Linked DNA regions of Homo sapiens. The protein of the gene in region 4 binds, or shares a complex with, the protein of the main gene of each other region. Each region holds a gene or a part of one and is shown on either strand. Other genes may lie near its edges.

Region 1 (4,464 bases), on a different chromosome or scaffold from region 4:
GCTTTGACCTTGCAGTAGAGGAAGTTGTGATCACAGAGAGGATGATGTCATAGTGGGAGGACTCCTGGCAGGAAAGGGCCTTATAGATATTGCCAGTTTTCTGCTGTCATCCATAATGTGTCCTGAAAAGTTTGTATCAAAGGTAAATGTGTAGAAACTAAGTGAGACACAGCATGGTGAAGAGAGGTTAGTACCAGAAAGCCAAACATCCCTGATTACATTTGCCTTACAGAAACACTCTGATGCTGTAGTCCTAACTTTTTATAATCAGTTTTTCTCCCTTCCTCAAACTACAGTCATTCCGTTTAAGACCAAAGAACATCTAACTGGGGCTGAAGATTGCCTCCTGTTGGCCCCCTCACTGGTTTCTATCTTTGTCTGAATTGTTTTCGGTTTGAGTCCTGTGCTTCTAAATGCTGGATTAGCCTTTTATTTTCCCCCTTTCCACTAATTTGAATAAAATGGCAAGAGTAAAATATAAGCTACGCAGACATCTCCCTAGTGCATCTATATTAACAAAGATGATAATGCTGCCTAAGAGGACTTTCCAGCTGGATTCTGCTGCAGGAAGATACGATGTGGGGTCAGCATGTAGCATCCAAAGAGGCCCAGATTTGAGTATGTCATTGTTTTGGTTGTGCATTGCAGAGGGAAGGTAGAGGGTGCATCCTGAGGTTCTCATGCCTGCCTGTCAGGGGATTTTTCCCTTGTAGGGATTGGTAGAGAAAGGGGTTGCTCCTCCAGCAAGATGAGGATTCGACTGTCCTTTCCCAACTCAGGTCCCTGAGCTGCGGAAGAAATCTCGCCGAGAGTACCTGGCTAAGCGGGAGCGAGAGAAGCTTGAGGACCTGGAGGCGGAGCTGGCTGATGAGGAGTTCCTTTTTGGGGACGTGGAGCTGAGCCGGCACGAGCGGCAGGAGCTCAAATATAAGCGGCGAGTGCGGGATCTCGCCCGGGAGTACCGGGCAGCTGGGGAGCAGGAGAAGCTGGAGGCCACCAATCGCTACCACATGCCCAAGGAAACCCGAGGACAGGTGAGGTGAAGCGGCGTCTGCTTCAGCCTTGGTCCCCAAGACAAGTTGTGGGGAAGGCTTCAGGGGATTGGGCAACACGTGGGTCATCCCCTTTCTTGCCTTGCCGTTCCCAATGGGCAGTGGGCGGGGGTAGTAATGGGAAGAGGGGAGAGGGCAGAGAGGACATCCTGTTTTTGAGTCTTCACATATCCCCTCTCTCTGTAGCCAGCCCGAGCTGTGGATCTAGTGGAGGAGGAATCAGGAGCCCCTGGGGAGGAGCAGCGGCGCTGGGAGGAGGCGCGGCTTGGGGCAGCGTCCCTGAAGTTTGGGGCCCGAGATGCTGCCTCTCAGGAGCCCAAGTATCAACTGGTGCTGGAGGAGGAGGAGACCATTGAGTTTGTCCGGGCCACTCAGCTCCAGGGTGATGAGGTAAGAGGGGAGCTGGGAGACTTTCTGAGGAAGACCCGTAGCGAGCTATTTAGCTCACACCTCCTTCTCTTTCCTTAGGAGCCGTCAGCTCCACCCACTTCAACTCAGGCCCAGCAGAAAGAGTCCATCCAGGCCGTCCGCCGCAGCCTCCCGGTGTTCCCATTTCGAGAGGAGCTCCTGGCTGCTATTGCAAATCACCAAGTCCTCATCATTGAAGGCGAGACAGGCTCAGGGAAGACCACCCAGATCCCGCAGTATCTCTTTGAGGAGGTACAGTCATCTCACCCTTCAGCTTGCCAGGGCACCTGGCATCAATGTCCTCATTCCTGTCAGAGCTCCTTTTACATTATATTTTTAGTAGTCACTTACCTATCTTTTCCACTAAATTGTGAAATTCTTGAGAGTAAAGACCATACCCTTTTCACATTTCTGTTCTCACTTCCTGCATTCATTTCATTTGGAAGGACGGGTAGATGGATAGGTGGAGTGGGGCGTGTATAAATGTGGACCTCCCTATGCTCCAACGTGGCCAAAAAACAAGGAGTTAAAGGACTATTTTCCTGCCTTTTTGTTAGTTTTTTTTTTTTTTTTTTGGAGACGGAGTCTTGCTCTGTCACCCAGGCTGGAGTGCAGTGGTGCGATCTTGGCTTACTGCAACCTCTGACTCCTGGGTTCAAGGAATTCTCCTGCGTCAGCCTTCAGAGTAGCTGGAATTACAGGCATGCGCCACCACACCTGGCTAATTTTTTAGTAGAGATGGGGTTTCACCATGTTGGCCAGGCTGCTCTCGAACTCCTGACCTCAAGTGATCCAGCCACCTCAGCCTCCCAAAGTGCTGGGATTACAGGTGTGAGCCACTGTGCCTAGCCCCTGCCTTATTTTGGAGACAGGCTCTTGCTCTGATGCCCAAGCTGGAGTGATGTGGCACCATCATGACTCACTGCAACCTGGGACTCCTGGGCTCAAGAGATCATCCCACCTCAGCCTCCTGAGTATCTGGGAGGTGCACACCACCATGCCCATATTAAACATTTTTTGTTTTTTTTTGAGGTGGAGTCTTGCTCTGTCACCAGGCTGGAGTGCAGTGGCGCGATCTTGACTCACTGCAACCTCCACCTCCTGGGTTCAAGTGATTCTCCTGCCTCAGCCTCCTAAGTAGCTGGGACTACAGGTGCGTACCACCACACCCAGCTAATTTTTGTATTTTTAGTAGAGATGGGGTTTCACCATGTTGGCCAGGATGGTCTCAATCTCCTGACCTCGTGATCTGCCCACCTCAGCCTCCCAAAGTGCTGGAGTTACAGGTGTTAGCCACTGTGCCTGGCCTGAAATTTTTTTTTTTTTTTTTTTGAGACAGAGTCTTGCTCTGTTGCCCAGGCTGGAGTGCGGTGGCATGATCTTGGCTTACTGCAACCTCTGTCTCCCAGGTTCAAGCGACTCTCCTGCCTCAGCCTCCCAAGTAGCTGGAAATACAGGCATGCACCACCATGCTCGGCTAATTTTTTGTATTTTTAGTAGACGGGGTTTCACCATTTTGGCCAGGCTGGTCTCGAACTCCCAACCTCAGGAGATCCGTCTGCCTCGGCCTCCCAAAGTGCTGGAATTGCAGGTGTGAGCCACTGTGCCTGGTCAAAATTTTGAATTTTTAATTTTTTTGTCACACTATGTTGCCCAGGCTGGTCTCGAACTCCTGAGCTCAAGCCATCCTCCCACCTCAGCCTCCCAAAGTACTAGGATTACAGGCATGAGCCACTGTGCCCAGCCTTCCTGCTTTTTTACCTTAGCTGGCTCTGTCTCAGCTAATCTGTTCTTTTCCAGCTCAAGTCTAGCAGAGTCATGAACTTAATTACCCAGAGCTGGGTGAGGACCCCCTTTGAGGGCCCTAGGTCTGTCATCCTATCTATTTGCCCTTCTTTTCTGGTTTTCAGCATCTGTCTTTTCCTCCTTTTCTCCTGCCTGGTTTTTACAACTTCTTTCTCTGAAATGTACCTGGTCCCAGGGTGCATATTTAGTAAAGGGCAAACTTCTTCTTTTTTCTTTGTCATTCAGGGTTATACAAACAAGGGTATGAAGATTGCCTGCACCCAACCCCGGAGAGTGGCTGCCATGAGTGTGGCCGCCCGAGTGGCCCGGGAGATGGGTGTGAAGCTTGGGAATGAGGTGAGATTTCTAGGGAACCGGGGGGTAGAGTCTGGGGTCTGTGACTCAGTCTACAGTTCCCTCAGGTCCCTACAGCAGAAGTCTTGGTGCTGCCCCACTTCACCTTTCCCCAAGTTCCTTTCAGGGCACACCAGCCCACACTTGGTTGCTAATGGTTCCCTTGACCAGGTTGGCTACAGCATCCGCTTTGAGGACTGCACATCAGAGCGAACTGTCCTCCGCTACATGACAGATGGGATGCTTCTCCGGGAGTTCCTCTCTGAGCCTGACCTGGCGAGTTACAGGTATCTCTAATCTCTGGCCTTTCTCTCCCTTCTTCCCACCCAGCCAATTCAGCCATTGTCTTCTGATTAATCCACCCGTTCTTGAATCTTTGTGGTTCAAATGGTCCTTGAACTGACCTCCAGGTACCACGGAGATGGGGCTGGAGGACAGAAGAGATTGTAGAGAAAGCCTCTTCTTTCCCCATTCATCTCCAGGGTTTAGAAAACAACCAGGATAGCAGAGCATTGCTGCCGAGACTTGAAATACCGTGTGAAGACCATTTGAAAACACTTGGAATGCTCAGCTCAGAGGGAGAAACAGGAAGCATCCTGGTTCCCTCTAAATATGTGAAGGCTGTTACATGGAAAGAAGGATCAGATTGTTTTATGTGACCCTACACGACATAGCTAGGAGCCATGGGGAGGTTACAGGGAGACAGATTCCAACTCAATACCAATGGCTGAGTAACCCTCAGAGTGGTGGAGATTGCAGGGCCTGTCAGAGTGGTTGGACTCTGGGTCTTGGCCCTCCACACAAGTCTTGGGTAGCTTGGTCTGTGAATAATGAGCTCTTAGTGCTGGAAATGGCCAAGCAGGGG
Region 2 (4,464 bases), on a different chromosome or scaffold from region 4:
GTTTGTCTTTCTATGGATTTGAGGCTCACATGTCCCCCAGCAGCTCAGTCACACTCTATCACAGAGTTCAGGCCAAGGAATCTCATCTTTCTGGGTCACTGTACACGGGACAAGTCTCCCAGGAGGCACTGAGCTCAGCCCTCCCCATACCGCGTGCACCAAATACTCCCAGCCCAACCCTGGGAGTTTCACTCCTCTAGACACAGACCAGGGTGGCACAGGACAGCCAGGACAGAAGGTGGCACCTGTGCCCTACCCAAAGCCCAATCCCCAGCCCACCAGGCTGGGCAGTCCTGGGCTGCCCTGACCGGGAGACATTACAGGACAGTGACCTGTGCAGCCCCCGAGGCCAGGAGAGAGCAGGGTGATGAGTTTCTAAAACCGCCTTCCACTTTCTATCAGAGAGCCGGCCCTGCAGAGGTGTGACCGACAGCCAGGGGAGAAGGAAGGAGCCTTAGAGGACCCGGGCTCGCTCTCTCTTCCATCGTTTAGTTGTTTGTGTCATTTGATGGCCAGGTCTCACCTAGCAGGAGCCAGACTCTGTGCCACACCCAACCAAAGATCCAACCCTGGAATCTGTACCACGACCAGGGAGGAAAAAATAAGGAGGGAGCTTTATTTAATATGAAGGTTGAGGCAGGGCCGGGGCGGGAGGGCGCTGTCACTTGGTGATGGTGTTCCTGCAGAGAAGAACAGGGGCGTGAGGCTGCAGAGGCGGGCACAGGCCACGCCACCCCTCCCCACCACACCCTACCCCACCAGCCTCGAGCCACTCACGCGTTCATGCTCTTGCCGCTGCCGCTGAGCACGATGTAGGGGGTCTTCTGAGCCTTCTGCTTCTCCTGGAGCAGGGCCACGGTGCCCAGGGGCGTGTCGCTGGAGCTCATCTTCTTCAGGAGCTGAGGGGTCGGGGCCACTCAGAAAGGGCTGCAGCAGGCCCCACACACCAGCCACCCCTGCCCCGGCAGGCACAGGGCCCCCCACATCCCCAAGGGCACCCACCGCCTCCTCGTCCAGCTTCTTCATCCGCCGCTCTGTCTTCATCTTGCCTGAGCCCTTGCCATGGAAGCGGTGCGACAGCTGCCGGAAAGCCTGGGGACGCGGGGCATGAGAGGAGATGCAGGGCCCTGGGTGGGGCCGGAGCCACCTGTGCCCACAAGGTGTATAATAACAGGGCGGGTGTTGATTGACCCCAATGCCAGGCCTGGGGTGCAGTGGGAAGGGGATGGGAAAAGAGCACAGACGCTGGCACCCTGCAGGGCCCCAGCAGAGGCCGGGAGACCAGCTTGGCTAGTGGATGCGCTGCCATGGGGGCAGAGCATGGGGAACCTGGAGACCTGCCACGCAGGGGCTGGGCCTGGACGCTGGGGCTGGGGCTGGGGCTGCAGGGAGACAAACCCCAGAGAGCAAGGGGGCAGCTGAGTGGTAGGGCAGGACGGTCGGGCGGCCTACGAGAGTGCTGGAAGGGCCTGGACGCTGGAATGGCCCTGCGGGCCAGGAAAGCCAGTGAAGGGCTCACGCAGGTGAGGACAGGAGGGCAGAGGTCCCGAGTGCCTGTCTGACCCTCCTGCCAGGCTTGCAAAGAGACTGCTGTGCCCACTAGAGACAAACTGAGGCACAGCCTTCCTCAGCCCTGAGGGCCCCCTCCCCATCCGTGGCATTCACCAGGCCCCCAGCCAGAGGCTGGTGGAGCCAGGACCCTGGGGCATTGCATGGCCCGGGGCATTGCATGGCCCTGGGCTTGGCCTCCCTGTGGCAGGCCGGGCCTCCGCCTGCAAAAGGCCCTGCTCACCTCCTTGGGTGTGAGTTTCCGGCCCGTCTCATCCACGTATTCGATCTTAACGTCGGGTTTGTAGCCGTCCTTCTCCTTGAAGTCCTGTGTGAAGCCTCGGTATTCCTCCCTCCGGCTGTACTTGTCATCGATGGCCCTGGCCCGAGACAGAGGAGGCCTTAGTGTGAGGAGCTGCCGCCTGCTGTGGTCCCGAAGCTCCAAGCTGGCACAGGCCCCTCAGCCCTGCACAGGCCCCACCACACTCACATCTTATCCTCGATGCAGTACACGGCTGAGGGCAGCGACTTGTTGGGGGCCTTCACCCGGGCCACCTTCTGCACTGTGGTCTCCAGCAGCCCTAGGGATGGAGGGGTTGTGAGACTCCCAACCCCTCGAGAGCCACAGCTCCAGGGCCGCCTGAGAAGGCAGAGCAGGCCCTGTGGGGGCACCTCCCTTTCCTTGCCTCTGGAAAGCCATCAGGCCTGTTCTACAGGCAAAGCAAAGATGCAGAAATGAGCCCCTTGCCAAGGGTCACTGGCCAGGGAAATGGCAGAGCTGGGGTCCTAACACCAGGGCTCTCTGTGCCACAGCTGGAACAGTTTCAACTCCCCTCTCCTTCCCCAAGCAGGTGTGGAGCCTCAAAGGCAGAGCAGACGGACAGATGCCACAGTGGAGGGGAAGGAGTGGCTCTGGGCCGGACAGCTGGCTCCAGCATTGGGACTGAGAGAAAGGGGCAGCAGAGGGGACCGGAGGGGGCCCTGCCTGCACCTGCAGCAGCACCCAAGCCCACCCAAGTCATGGCTGCCCTGAGCTCCCTACCTTTGTTCTGACACAGGAGCAGGGCAGCTGCCAGCCCCCTATTCACGATCGGTTCCTCGTCCAGGATGGTGGTGGAGGAAGCAGAGAACTACGGGACACGTGGCGGGGGTGGTTAGCAGGCCATACCGGCTCTTCTCAGCCCCACCCACTGGTCACCACCTGCCAGGCACCAGCCCTCCACAACATTTAATTTCCTCATTTACTCCTCAGATCGCCCTGGGAGGTCTGCAGAGCCCACTCTGGATGAGGAGGCTGAGGCTCTGGACACCGAGCCCGGTGCTCATCTCCAGCTTGAGCACCCCCAAACGCCCACCCCCCAGCGGCGCGGCCCTCACATCCTGCTGCTGCTTCTCCTCGTCCAGGTTCACCGTGCTCCAGCCGATGTTCTCCTCCCCGTCAGATTCGGAGCCACCGTTGGCTGAGCGCTCCTCATCCCGTTCAAAGTCCTGGGGCACAAAAGACCAGGGTCGGCCCAGGCCCCAGCCAGCCCACCCAGCCGAGGGAAGCAGAGGGCGGGGCCGCCCCAGACGCACCATGAGCTCCTCCTGCTCCTCGCGATTGCCAGCCAGCCCGTAGGTGGGGATCTCCCCCAAGGTGCGGCAGAACTCGGACGTGGCGTTGAACACGATGGCCCCCTTCCGCTCGGGATCCTCATCCTCCTCCCAGCCCCGCTGGCGAGACTCCAGCTTCTTCACAATCTCCACCACCTGGGGGAGGGAGCGGCTGTGGGCAAACCCAGCAGTTTCTGGGGTGATGCCATTGAGACCCAGGAACCTAAGGGTCCTCCCTGGCAGCAGCCAGACAGGCCACGCCCACAGCCCATGCAGGCCCAGCTGCTATCTGCCGCCTAACTCCACTCTGCACCTCTTTCACTGGGGTCACTCTTCTGCTCCAAACCCATCAATGGGTTTGGATGCCCTTTGAATGAATACCCAACATCCTACAGGGCCTTCCTGACCAGGCCTGTGCCAATCCCCCTCCAAAGCCCCTCACACACTACCTCAGCCTCAAACTCCTTCCTCCAGGCTCCCTCCTGCCACCTGCCCCTCCCCCGACAAACTCCGGTTTCAGGACTCTAGACAGCACTTCTAGAACCCGCAGGGTGGTGAGGTGGCCCACGCTTTTGACTTCCCACAGCCCAGCTTCTCGCTTCCTGCTTCACCAAGAAAGCAGGTTCCGTGACATGGGAAGAGAACTCACTCATGCTGCCAGCACTGAATCCAGCGACCCCCACACGGGCACCAGCACCCTCTGCTTTCCCTCCTGTCGCAGATGCCCAGCCACACACAATGATTACCATCTCCCCTCTTTAAAAAACTTCTCCCTCAACCCTGCAGCCCAGACAGCAAAGTCCTCACTCCTCAGTGAAGGTTCGAGTCACTATGTCCACTTCTGCACCCCTCTTTCATTTTATATTACATTCATTTTTTTAAAAAAATCTTCTGAGGCGGGTGGACTGCTTGAGTTCCGGAGATCGAGACCAGCCTGGGCAACATACCCAAATCCCATCTCTACAAAAAACATAAAAATTAGACATTGTGGTCACACACGCCCATAGTCCCAGCTACTGGGGAGGCTGAGGTGGGAGTACTGCTTGAGCTTGGGAGATCAAGGCTGCCAAGATCACACCACTGCACTCAAAAGAGTGGGCAAGAGTGAAACCCCGTCTCGAAAAAAAAAAAAAAAAAAAATTCTTCCAGGGGCCGGGTGGTTGCTCACATCTATAATCCTAGCACTTTGGGAGGCCGAGGCTGGAGGATCACTTGAGCCCAGGAGTTCGAGACCAGCCTGGACAATAAGGTGAAGCACAGTCTCTACAAAAAACACAAAGATCAACCAGGCATGGTGGTGTATGCCTGTAGTCTCAGCTACTT
Region 3 (4,464 bases), on a different chromosome or scaffold from region 4:
AAAAAAAAAAAAGAGAAGGTGGCAACTGATCTGTCAGCAGTTTCACAGGCTGGTTAAGCCAAAGAGAAATAAAAAATAATAAAATGATTCCCTGCCCTGGCCCCTGCCAAACAACAAAAACAAACCACGCACCCAACCTACTTGAAAATAACCAACAGTCCTAGGCAATCCTTGGCTGAGAAGAAATTGAAAGGGAAGCTACCAACAACCAGCAAGCAGTGAAGAGGGAACATGCACCCTCAAAATGACAGACGTGGCTATCAGAAACACACATGGATTAAAGTGAGGAAGGAGGAAAAGCACCATGAAGAAGCAAAGACAGAAACTGAAAACAATTACAAACCCTTCAAAGTGAAGTGAAAACAGACAAACCCTTCAAAGACCACTAAGGGACTGAGGAATGGAAAGTGTGATTAGGCATGAGAAAAAAAGGTCAGCACAGCGAGGCCAAGAGAATACCAGCCTTCATGGAAACAAGTGCCCGTTAACCCTGAAATGAAAGCCCCAAGGAAGTGGCACGAATAGCTGCCAGCTGCCTTTGCCCAGCTGTTAAGCACAGCTGACTCGTTTGATTTTTTTTTTTTTTTCCAGACAGGGTCTCACTGCTGCCCAGGATAGAGTGCAGTGGCGCGATCCTAGCTCACTGCAGCTTTGACTTCCCAGGCTCAGATTATCCCCCCACCTCACCCTCCCAAGCAGCTGGGACTACAGGCGCACGCCACCATGCCCCGCTAATTTTTTTTATTTTTTGTAGAGATCGGGTTTTGCCATGTTGCCCAGGCTGCTCTCGAATTCCTGGGCTCAGGCAATCCACCTACCTCAGCCTCCCAAAGTGCTGGGATTACAGGTGTGAGCCACCACGCCTGGCCATCCCTGTGATTTTAACCATTCCAGGCCACAAAGCCACAGCCAGCCCTGCTCGTAACATGCAGGGGCCACACCTGTCACAGCAAAACCTGCTGGAGCCAGTCCACACAACCGAGACCACGTGTGACAGTGAGCTGGCAGAAGGCCACGGCGAAGCCACGACAGGCCAGGGTTCACCCCAGAATGCCACGGAGACACCCATCCACTCTGGCCTTGTAGTGGCCACATCCACAAATCCCGGGAGGACCAGAAAAAGGACAGAATCATCATAGTAGATGCTAACAAAGAAACCTCTAAAAAGTCAGCCACCCTCCTAAAAACAGCCCAACAACAAATGTTCTGAGAAGGCAAAACAGCGATTTCTGTGGAGCACAGCAAGATGCCCACATCCTCCTCCCCCATCAGGCCCACGGTGACGTGACGGTGACGTGACTGATGTGCACACCAGGGAAGCAGAGAGCAGACCAGCTTTTGGTGATAAGCGTGACTATCTAGAAAACCCAAAAAAATCTTAAAAACTTTTGAATTATAAGATAATTTGTTAAAGTGGCTAGATATAAAATGAACGGTAGTTTTTCTCTACATGAGCAATGATCCCCAAAAGTTGGGAAAAAAAAAGTCCATTTACAAAAGTATCATAAACTATAAAAAATCCTTAAGAGGTTGCTTTATCCCGGAAGTCACAGGACCCATGTGAAGAAAACGATTGAAAGACTGAAACATAACATCAGGCCACTGTCTGGGGATGGAAAGGGCACCTCTGTTCTTCCACAATACAGGCATCCGGCCCCTGTGTGCATGGCCCTGCTGGCCCCCCATCCCCTGCCTCCTGCCACCAGACTGCACACTGCTCCCCACATGCACCAGGGCCAGACCTCCTGTGTCTCTCCAGGCGCCTCTCCCTGTGCAGCCTGTGCCCTGCACAACCCCTCCCACACGCTGACCTCCCCCAGCACTGCCTGGCCACAGGCACCCACACGAATGCCTGGTCCCTGTCAAGAAGCCCTTCTGGACCTCCAGTAATTCCCGACTTCTGGTCTCTCGAGGACACACCCGGTGCGGGCAGCTCTCCCTGCTGACTCACTCTGGGGACCCCCTTTTGAACGCAGGTGCACATGCTTGGCCTAGGTGTGCCGTACACCGTCTGGGTATGATTCAGAACCAGCACACCCTTCAGAGAGGGCCAAGAGGAAGAACCCGCAGAGAGTGCCGGCTCACCTCCCAGGCCACCCCAGCAAGCCCAGCTGACTCACAATTGAGACCTGTTGCTGTTGGGCCCGGAGTTGGCCATGCTGAGGATGCCGCGGCCCGTGTGCGAGAGGTTGGGCCGGAACTCGTCTTTGAAGGGCTTCCCCCAGTATGACTCCCCACCTGGAAGAGAAAGGCCCATGGGAGCAGGAAAGCCTGGGCCCCAGCCGAGGCAGAACTAGAAACCTCAGAGTCCCGAGGGGCATCAGGGCCTTGCTGAGCCCAGCCTGGGGCAGGGGCACTTGATAGGGAGGCTCCCAGCCCCACGCCACCAACTCCTGGGTCCCTTGGAGCCCCCACGCCTCCAAACAGGCAGGCTGCTGCCCACTCACCCCAGCCCCGCCTGGGGCCTGCCCCGGGACAGGGATTAAAGAGTCAAGGCCACCATCATCATCACTCAAGCTATGGGAATACAGAGGTTGGGGGATCTGGACCCAAGCAGCTGCCAGGCTGAGGGGCTTGGAGAGGCTGCAGGAGGGAGGGCTGGCCTCAGTCTGAGGCAGACCCCAGGGGCCCAGGGAAGAGACCACACACTCTTGCCTCCTCTACCATGCAGGCCTCACAGCCACCTGGAAATGAGAAAACTGAGGGCCAGGCCTGAGGGGGCACAGCACTGATGGCTGCCAGTCGTTCCACCCTGGTCTAGCAGATTCCATGTCTGAGCTGTGCACAACCCCTGCCCAGCTACCCCCTCATGCCCCACGGAGCAGCCAAAGTGCCCAGAGAGGGGCCCAGCACCAGTACCTACCCGTGCCTGTGCCTGTGGGGTCGCCCCCTTGGATCTGTGAAAACAAAAGCCAGTGAGCAAGTCACACTCTGAGACCCGAGGCCCACCGCCTGCCTGACTGAAGGACACCCCTCCTGCCAGATGGCTCCACACAGGGGCTGGGCTCTTGGTGATAATGAGGGGCCCTCCCAGCCACCTCCCTTTGTGAACCCAGTTCTGGATGGGCTGGGGCCTCAAGGGTCAGTCTATGGGTTCCCCAACAGAGGATCACCAACTGGACTCATCCTGGCCACCGTGGGATGGGCCAGGGCCCTGGGATGGGGCAGGGACAAGCCCACCCAGCCCCCGATGTCCCACCAAGCTCATCTGTGCAGCCAGTGACTCTCGTCACTCACCACAAAGTTCCGGATGGATCTGTGGAAGATGGTGCCATCGTAATAATGCTTCTTGCAAAGCCTGATGAAGTTTTCGCAGGTTTTTGGTGTCTGCAACATAGCCCCAATACTTGTATGAAGCAGAGAGCTGCCAAAGGCAGCTCACCACAGCCACAGGAGGCTTTTTTTTTTTTTTTTTTTTTGAGGTGGAGTCTTGCTGTTGCCCAGGCTGGAGTGCTGTGGCGCGATCTTGGCTCACTGCAACCTCCGCCTCCTAGGTTCAAGACATTCTCCTGCCTCAGCCTCCCGAGTAGCCAGGACTACAGGCATGCGCCACCATGCCTGGCTAATTTTTGTAGTTTTAGTAGAGACGGGTTTCCCCATGTTGGCCAGGCTGGTCTTTAACATGTAGCAGAGTCAGCTGCCCAGCCACACTGGGCACGGATGGACCCACAACATTAAGCAACAGGACCCGTGCAGCCGCACGGCCCAGAGTACAGCGCATGGGAGAAGTGTGGGCAGAGCAGCAGGTGCGGCTTGGCCCCTTCTCTGAGACACTGGCACCTGTGCGCAGGCCATGCTGCCAACGCGGCCCCCTAGGAAGGACACAGGGCACTGCTGCGGGTCCCGCCTAGTGACAGGCTGAATTTCCTACAACAAGCACATACCAGTGGCAGCCCTATATTTAAGACATGGCTGTCAGATGACCCAGAGATGACCTTGGGGCATGGGGAGTGGCTGGCCTCCACACCCACCAGGTCGCAGTGCAGCTCCAGGTTGAGGTCGCCCTTGTTGGTGTGCAGCCGCACGTAGCCCTTCTTCTTCACAAACTGGTAGCGCAGCACATCCTCGTCGATGGCAGCTACAAGCCAAGGTCCCAGCTCAGCCCCTGCCCTCACCCTGGGGCAGCCCCACCATGCCAGGCAGCACCGACCTCAGACACACAGGCGGGGACTAGGCTCCAGCTCTGGGGAGAGCAGGGGAGCTGGAGGCCGAGGGTCTGCTTAGGCCACGCACAGGCTCACCCCAGCCTCATGGGGCTGGCAGGGGTTCAGCAGCTAAGAGGGGGAGGACTAGGGGCTCAGGTGACAGTGGGAGCCCCTGACAGACCAATAAAGTGGGAGTCGGGGAGCACACCCACCCCCTGCCACTTTTGGGTCACATGGCAGGTGGCTACAGAGGCCAAGGTGGCTACCTGCTTCATGTGTGGTCTCCGGGACCATCGCGGTGGAGGTGAAGGAAGCGCTG
Region 4 (5,413 bases):
AGGGTTTCACCCGTTGGGCTGGTCTCGAACTTCTGACCTCAGGTGATCTGCCCACCTTGGCCTCCCAAAGTGCTGGGATTACAGGCGTAAGCCACCAGGCCTGGCCCTTTTTTTTAAAGACAGTCTTCGCCAGGTGTGGTGGCTCATCCCTGTAATCCCAGCACTTTGGGAGGGCGAGGCAGGCGGATCACCTGAGGTCAGAAGTTCGAGACCAGCCTGGCCAACATGGCGAAACCCCGTCTCTGCTAAAAATACAAAAAAATTAGCCAGACTTGGTGGCACTTGACTGTAATCCCAGCTACTGGGGAGGCTGAGGCAGGAGAATTGCTTGAGCCTGGGAGGCAGAGGTTGCAGTGAGCCAAGACTGCACCACTAAACTCCAGCCTGGACAATAGAGTGAGACTTTGTCAAAAAAACAAACGAAAAAAAATTGATCACACCATCTCAAAGTAAGTTGTAGGCATTACGACACTTCAGCATGCATTTTCTAATGACATTCTCCTATATAACCATAATCTCACAATCACATCTAAGAAAATGAACCCCACACTATCATACAATACACAGTTCATATAAAAACTTTTAGTCTATAATATATACTTTGAATTAACAGATCCTATCATCACACTAAATGGTACACATAAGATAACCTATTATCCTCCCGCACTAGACTATTCTTGAGGGTAGGGATCGTAAGCTCTATATCTAATCCTAGACTGTAATAGGCACTGAATAATGTTGGCTGAAATGTTTTAATGAATAAAGGGAAACCAACCTTAAAATGCCTTTTTTTAATTTCTTTTTTTTTAGTGGTATAGACAGCCATCACAAAAAAGAAATTACTTGGTCTGGGATATAACAAGCCTCAAACTTTAAGAAGACTCATGAGTTGAATCTCTTTTTATATATGACATCAAGAAAACGTTTTTCTCAACGAATTGGTAACACTTTATTTCACCAGAGAGTTATTCAGCTCCAAATTTAACAATCAATTATAACTAGAAAAGCCTAGAATTCTGAACTAATGGTTTCCTCCCATTATCAAGTTTTTGTTTTTATCTTTTACACGAATTTACTATCCCAGTTAGTAAGAACTTTTACTATAAAAGTTCTTCAAATCATTTTTGGAAGCAAAGAAGATAAATAAAAGGAAAAAAAAAACCTTATGTGGCCAGGCGCGGTGGCTCAGATACATAAAAGATACGTAAAAATAACTAAGTTGTAGAAAGCAATAAAGATATACAGAGGTTTTTTTTGTGTTTTTTTTTAAACAGAGGTTTTTAGTTTAGGTTTTTTCTGAGACTATGCCACCATGCCCGGCTAATATTTTTTAAATTTTTAAATTTTTTGTAGAGATGTGGTTTTGCCATGTTGCCTAGACTAGTCTTAAACTCCTGAGCTCAAGCAATCAGCCTGCCTTGGCCTCCCAAAGTGCTGGGATTACAAGCGTGAGCCACTGCACCCAGCTACACACAGGTTTTTTACTAAGAATATATTGTAGCATGTGGAGAGGGGAGTCAGGTATTAGGGGACTCCTAGTAAGAAGCCTGAAAAGTTGGAAATATGCAGCAAGAAGAAACAAAAGAAAAAATACAGCATAAGACACAGAGTAATTATAGATACAAAGATGGAGTCTTGTTCTGTTGCCCAGGCTGGAGTGCAATAGCGCAATCTCAATCTGAGCTCATTGCAACCTCCGTCTCCCGGGTTCAAGAGATTCTTGTGCCTCAGCCTCCCAAGTAGCTGAGACTACAGGCGCATGCCACCACACCCAGCTAATTTTTGTATTTTTAGTAGAGACGGGGTTTTACCATGTTGGCCCAAGTGATCTGCCTGCCTCGGCCTCACAAAGTGCTACGATGACAAGCATGAACCACCACGCCTGGCCGATGAAATGTTAAGTTCAATATTTTAGGTCCTATGAGTAGAGAGGAGTTAGGCAGGTTCCTTTCATGGAAAGCCTAAGCTCTGTTAAAGAATTCCTCTAGGAGAGCTACTGAAGGATTTTCATCAATGAAGTGGAGTACCAGGCTCATATTCACATTTAAAAGAGAACCTAGGGCCAATGTTCAGAAACAGATTTTAGAAAGACAAGAGACCAAAGTATAATCTCTAGGAAGACAAATTATGTGACTAGAGCAGTACATATACAAGTTAAAACTACAGTAATCGAGACATAAGGAACAACAAATAGATCAATGAAACAATACAAGCAAACAGATCTATTTCTGGTCCCACATTTACATGGTTGATTTAGCTGGGATTACAGGCACTCGCCACCACAACCAGCTAATTTTTGTATTTCTTTTTGTTTTAGTAGAGCCGGGGTTTCACCATGTTGGTCAGGCTGGTCTCGAACTCCTGACCTCAGGTGATCTGCCTGCCTTGGATTCCGAAAAGTGCTGGGATTACAGGCATGAGCCACCAAGCCTGGCCTTATATGGTTGATTTTTTACAAAGGTGCCAAAGACGTGTAACAGGCAAAGGAAAGTGTTTTCAACAAATGATGCTGGAATAACTGGAAATCCATACAGAAAAAAAACGAACCTGGACCACTAACACCATTTTCCAAAAGTAATCCAAGATGGATGATAGTCACTTGAGCCCAAGAGTTCCAGATATAGGCTGGGCACAGTGGCTCACGCCTGTAATCCCAGCACTTTGGGAGGCCAAGGCAGGCAGATCACAAGGTCAGGAGATCGAGACCAGCCTGGCCAAAGTGGTGAAATCCCATCTCTACTAAAATACAAAAAAAATAAGCCAGGCATAGTGGCACATGCCTGTAGTCCCAGCTACTCGGGAGGCTGAGGCAGGGGAATCACTTGAACCTGGGAGGTGGAGGTCGCAGTGAGCCGAGAGTGCGCCACTGCACTCCAGTCTGGCAACAGAGCAAGACTCCATCTCAAAAAAAAAAAAAAAGACTTAAAGAGTTCCAGATACATAAAAATCGATCAGTCAGGCATGGTGGCTCACGCCTGTAATCCCAGTACTTTGGGAGGCCAAGGCGGGTGGATCACAAGGTCAGGAGTTCGAGACCAGCCTGACCAACATGGTGAAACCCTGTCTCTACTAAAAATACAAAAATTAGCCAGGCGTGGTGGCAGGCGCCTGTAATCCCAGCTACTTGGGAGGCTGAGGTAGGAGAATCGCTTGAACCTGGAAGGCAGAGGTTGCAGTGAGCTGAGATCGCACAATTGTACTCCAGCCTGAGCTACAAGAAGAGAGACACTATTAAGGAAATGAACATGTAAACCACACACTGAGAGAAAACACATCTGACAAAGAACTGGTATCCAGGACACAGATCTAATTTCTACAACTCTGGGCTGGGCGCAGTGGCTCACGCCAGTAATCCCAGCACTTTGGGAGGCCAAGGCGGGCGGATCACGAGGTCAGGAGATTGAGAACATCCTGGCTAACACGGTGAAATCCCGTCTCTACTAAAAATACAAAAAATTAGCCGGGCGTGGTGGCAGGCGCCTGTAGTCCCAGCTACTCGGGAGGCTGAGGCAGGAGAATGGCGTGAACCCAGGAGGCGGAGCTTGCAGTGAACCAAGATCATGCCACTGCACTCCAGCCTGGGTGACAGAGTGAGACTCCGCCTCAAAAACAAACAAATAAGCAAAAAACCGACTAAACCCTAAGGAGATACCACTACATACCCACTAAAATGGCTAAAATTAAAGACTGAGCAAACAACACCACATACTGGTGAGGATGTGGACCAATTGTTATTCTAATATATTGTTAATGGAAGTGTAAAATGGTACAACCACTTTGGAAAATGGTCTGGAAATTTCTTAAAAAGCTAAACACATAACTATGTTACAGTCCATCAACTCCACTCGAGTATTTACCCACGAAAATTTGTTTCCCTCCAAAAACCTGAAGAATATTCAACGTAGTTGTAAACAAAATACATAACTTTTTATTTTATTTTCTTGTAATTTTTTAAAATACGGAGCTTTTTTTTTCTTTTTTCTTTTTTTTTGAGACGGAGTCTCGCTCTGTTGCCCAAGCTGGAGTGCAATGGCGTGATCTCAGCTCACTGCAATCTCCACCTCCTGGGTTCAAGGGATTCTCCTGCCTCAGCCTCCCTTGTAGCTGGGATTACAGGCACCTGCCACCATGCCCAGCTACTTTTTTGGTATTTTTAGTAGAGATGGGGTTTCACCATGTTGGTCAGGCTGGTTTCAAACTCCTGACCTCAGGTGATCTACCCGCCTCGGCCTCCCAAAGTGCTGGGATTACAGACGTGAGCCACTGCGCCCGGCCTAAAATACAGAACTTCCAAACACACAATGCACTAATATCCAGTAATAAAAATGAACACATTACTGATACACTTCACAATGTGGATGAATCTCAAAAACATGTAACTAAAAGAAGTTTTACGCAAAAATACTTTGTGATTCCAAATATATGAAATTCTAGCGCAGGCAAAATTCATTTCTGGTGGAAGAAACTGGTTGCATCTAGGGGTATGGAGCCAGAGGTTGCCTGGGAAAGGCTTGAGGAAACTGTCTGAGGTTTTGGTAATGTTACTTCTGTTGATATGGGTTTAGGTTACAAAAGTGTTTACATTTTTCAATAGCAGGAAATATACACTGCATTTCATTGTATAAGATATTTACCTTAAAGAAGGAAAACAAAAATCCATGAGTGGGATAAAAAGGGCCTGAACTTAATGGTGGTGACTGGAATGAAAGGCTACTATGGGCAGGACAAATACACAATTATCCCTCCCTAACTGAGCCCAGGAACCAAATGGATTCAAATTATTTTCAGATGAATCTTTCACTGTCTGAATTCTTTCCACTTAGTGAAACTTGGATATCAAATAGTAACACAGTGTCCCTCAGTATAAAACACACTATTTGAACCCAAAAACCAAACAGGATAATGTGGGTCACTTTTATGAAGTAGGTAAAACTGGCAAAATTGGCAATGTATCAAATGTCAAGGACATCAGGAGAGAAAAAGTCAAGCTCACCTCCCAGGTTTTTGGTTAGGGTGACAGTGAGAATAAGGATGACAATGCTGCCAACTGAGATACAGAAATAAATCTACTGAAAATGCAAACCAGTTAGTCAAACAATCATTTTCTGGAGGAAAAATACATTCTCTGGTAAGAAAAAAAATTTGTTTCTATATTTTACCTAAGACACAAAACAGGATTCAGTACAGGTATTAAAAATTACTGGAAAATTGTCATAACATGCAGTATCTTTAAAGGGAACAAATGGAATCCAAGGTGTATTACACAAAATTGAACTATGAGTGGATTAAGATTCAGATTGGCAGGTATGGAGAAATTTCAAAAAATGTAATTTTCTTTTTTTGAGACCGAGTCTCACTCTGTTGCCCAGGCTGGAGTGCAGTGGTGCGATCTCAGCTCACTGCAACCTCCCAG

What was found.
Region 1: SNRPD1 (region 4) and DHX16 share a complex: the UniProt entries of both Homo sapiens proteins name them as parts of the minor spliceosome.
Region 2: SNRPD1 (region 4) and SART1 share a complex: the UniProt entries of both Homo sapiens proteins name them as parts of the U4/U6-U5 tri-snRNP complex.
Region 3: SNRPD1 (region 4) and PPIL2 share a complex: the UniProt entries of both Homo sapiens proteins name them as parts of the minor spliceosome.

What each region holds. Positions count from the first base shown.
Region 1 is NC_000006.12:30,662,049-30,666,512, reverse strand, and holds part of DHX16 (pre-mRNA-splicing factor ATP-dependent RNA helicase DHX16), read left to right. Parts: exon of another isoform or gene 1-618; intron 619-779; coding exon 780-1,034; intron 1,035-1,238; coding exon 1,239-1,442; intron 1,443-1,520; coding exon 1,521-1,712; intron 1,713-3,491; coding exon 3,492-3,602; intron 3,603-3,770; coding exon 3,771-3,886; intron 3,887-4,081; exon of another isoform or gene 4,082-4,464. UniProt on the Homo sapiens protein: Required for pre-mRNA splicing as a component of the spliceosome. Contributes to pre-mRNA splicing after spliceosome formation and prior to the first transesterification reaction.
Region 2 is NC_000011.10:65,975,228-65,979,691, reverse strand, and holds part of SART1 (U4/U6.U5 tri-snRNP-associated protein 1), read right to left. Parts: intron 3,314-4,464; coding exon of another isoform or gene 3,298-3,313; coding exon 3,124-3,297; intron 3,037-3,123; coding exon 2,926-3,036; intron 2,679-2,925; coding exon 2,591-2,678; intron 2,130-2,590; coding exon 2,039-2,129; intron 1,929-2,038; coding exon 1,793-1,928; intron 1,093-1,792; coding exon 1,003-1,092; intron 900-1,002; coding exon 778-899; intron 681-777; coding exon 662-680; 3' UTR 1-661. UniProt on the Homo sapiens protein: Plays a role in mRNA splicing as a component of the U4/U6-U5 tri-snRNP, one of the building blocks of the spliceosome. May also bind to DNA.
Region 3 is NC_000022.11:21,686,506-21,690,969, reverse strand, and holds part of PPIL2 (RING-type E3 ubiquitin-protein ligase PPIL2), read right to left. Parts: coding exon 4,412-4,464; intron 4,079-4,411; coding exon 3,972-4,078; intron 3,328-3,971; coding exon 3,238-3,327; intron 2,898-3,237; coding exon 2,864-2,897; intron 2,239-2,863; coding exon 2,121-2,238; intron 1-2,120. UniProt on the Homo sapiens protein: Has a ubiquitin-protein ligase activity acting as an E3 ubiquitin protein ligase or as an ubiquitin-ubiquitin ligase promoting elongation of ubiquitin chains on substrates.
Region 4 is NC_000018.10:21,614,196-21,619,608, reverse strand, and holds part of SNRPD1 (small nuclear ribonucleoprotein Sm D1), read right to left. Parts: intron 1-5,413. UniProt on the Homo sapiens protein: Plays a role in pre-mRNA splicing as a core component of the spliceosomal U1, U2, U4 and U5 small nuclear ribonucleoproteins (snRNPs), the building blocks of the spliceosome.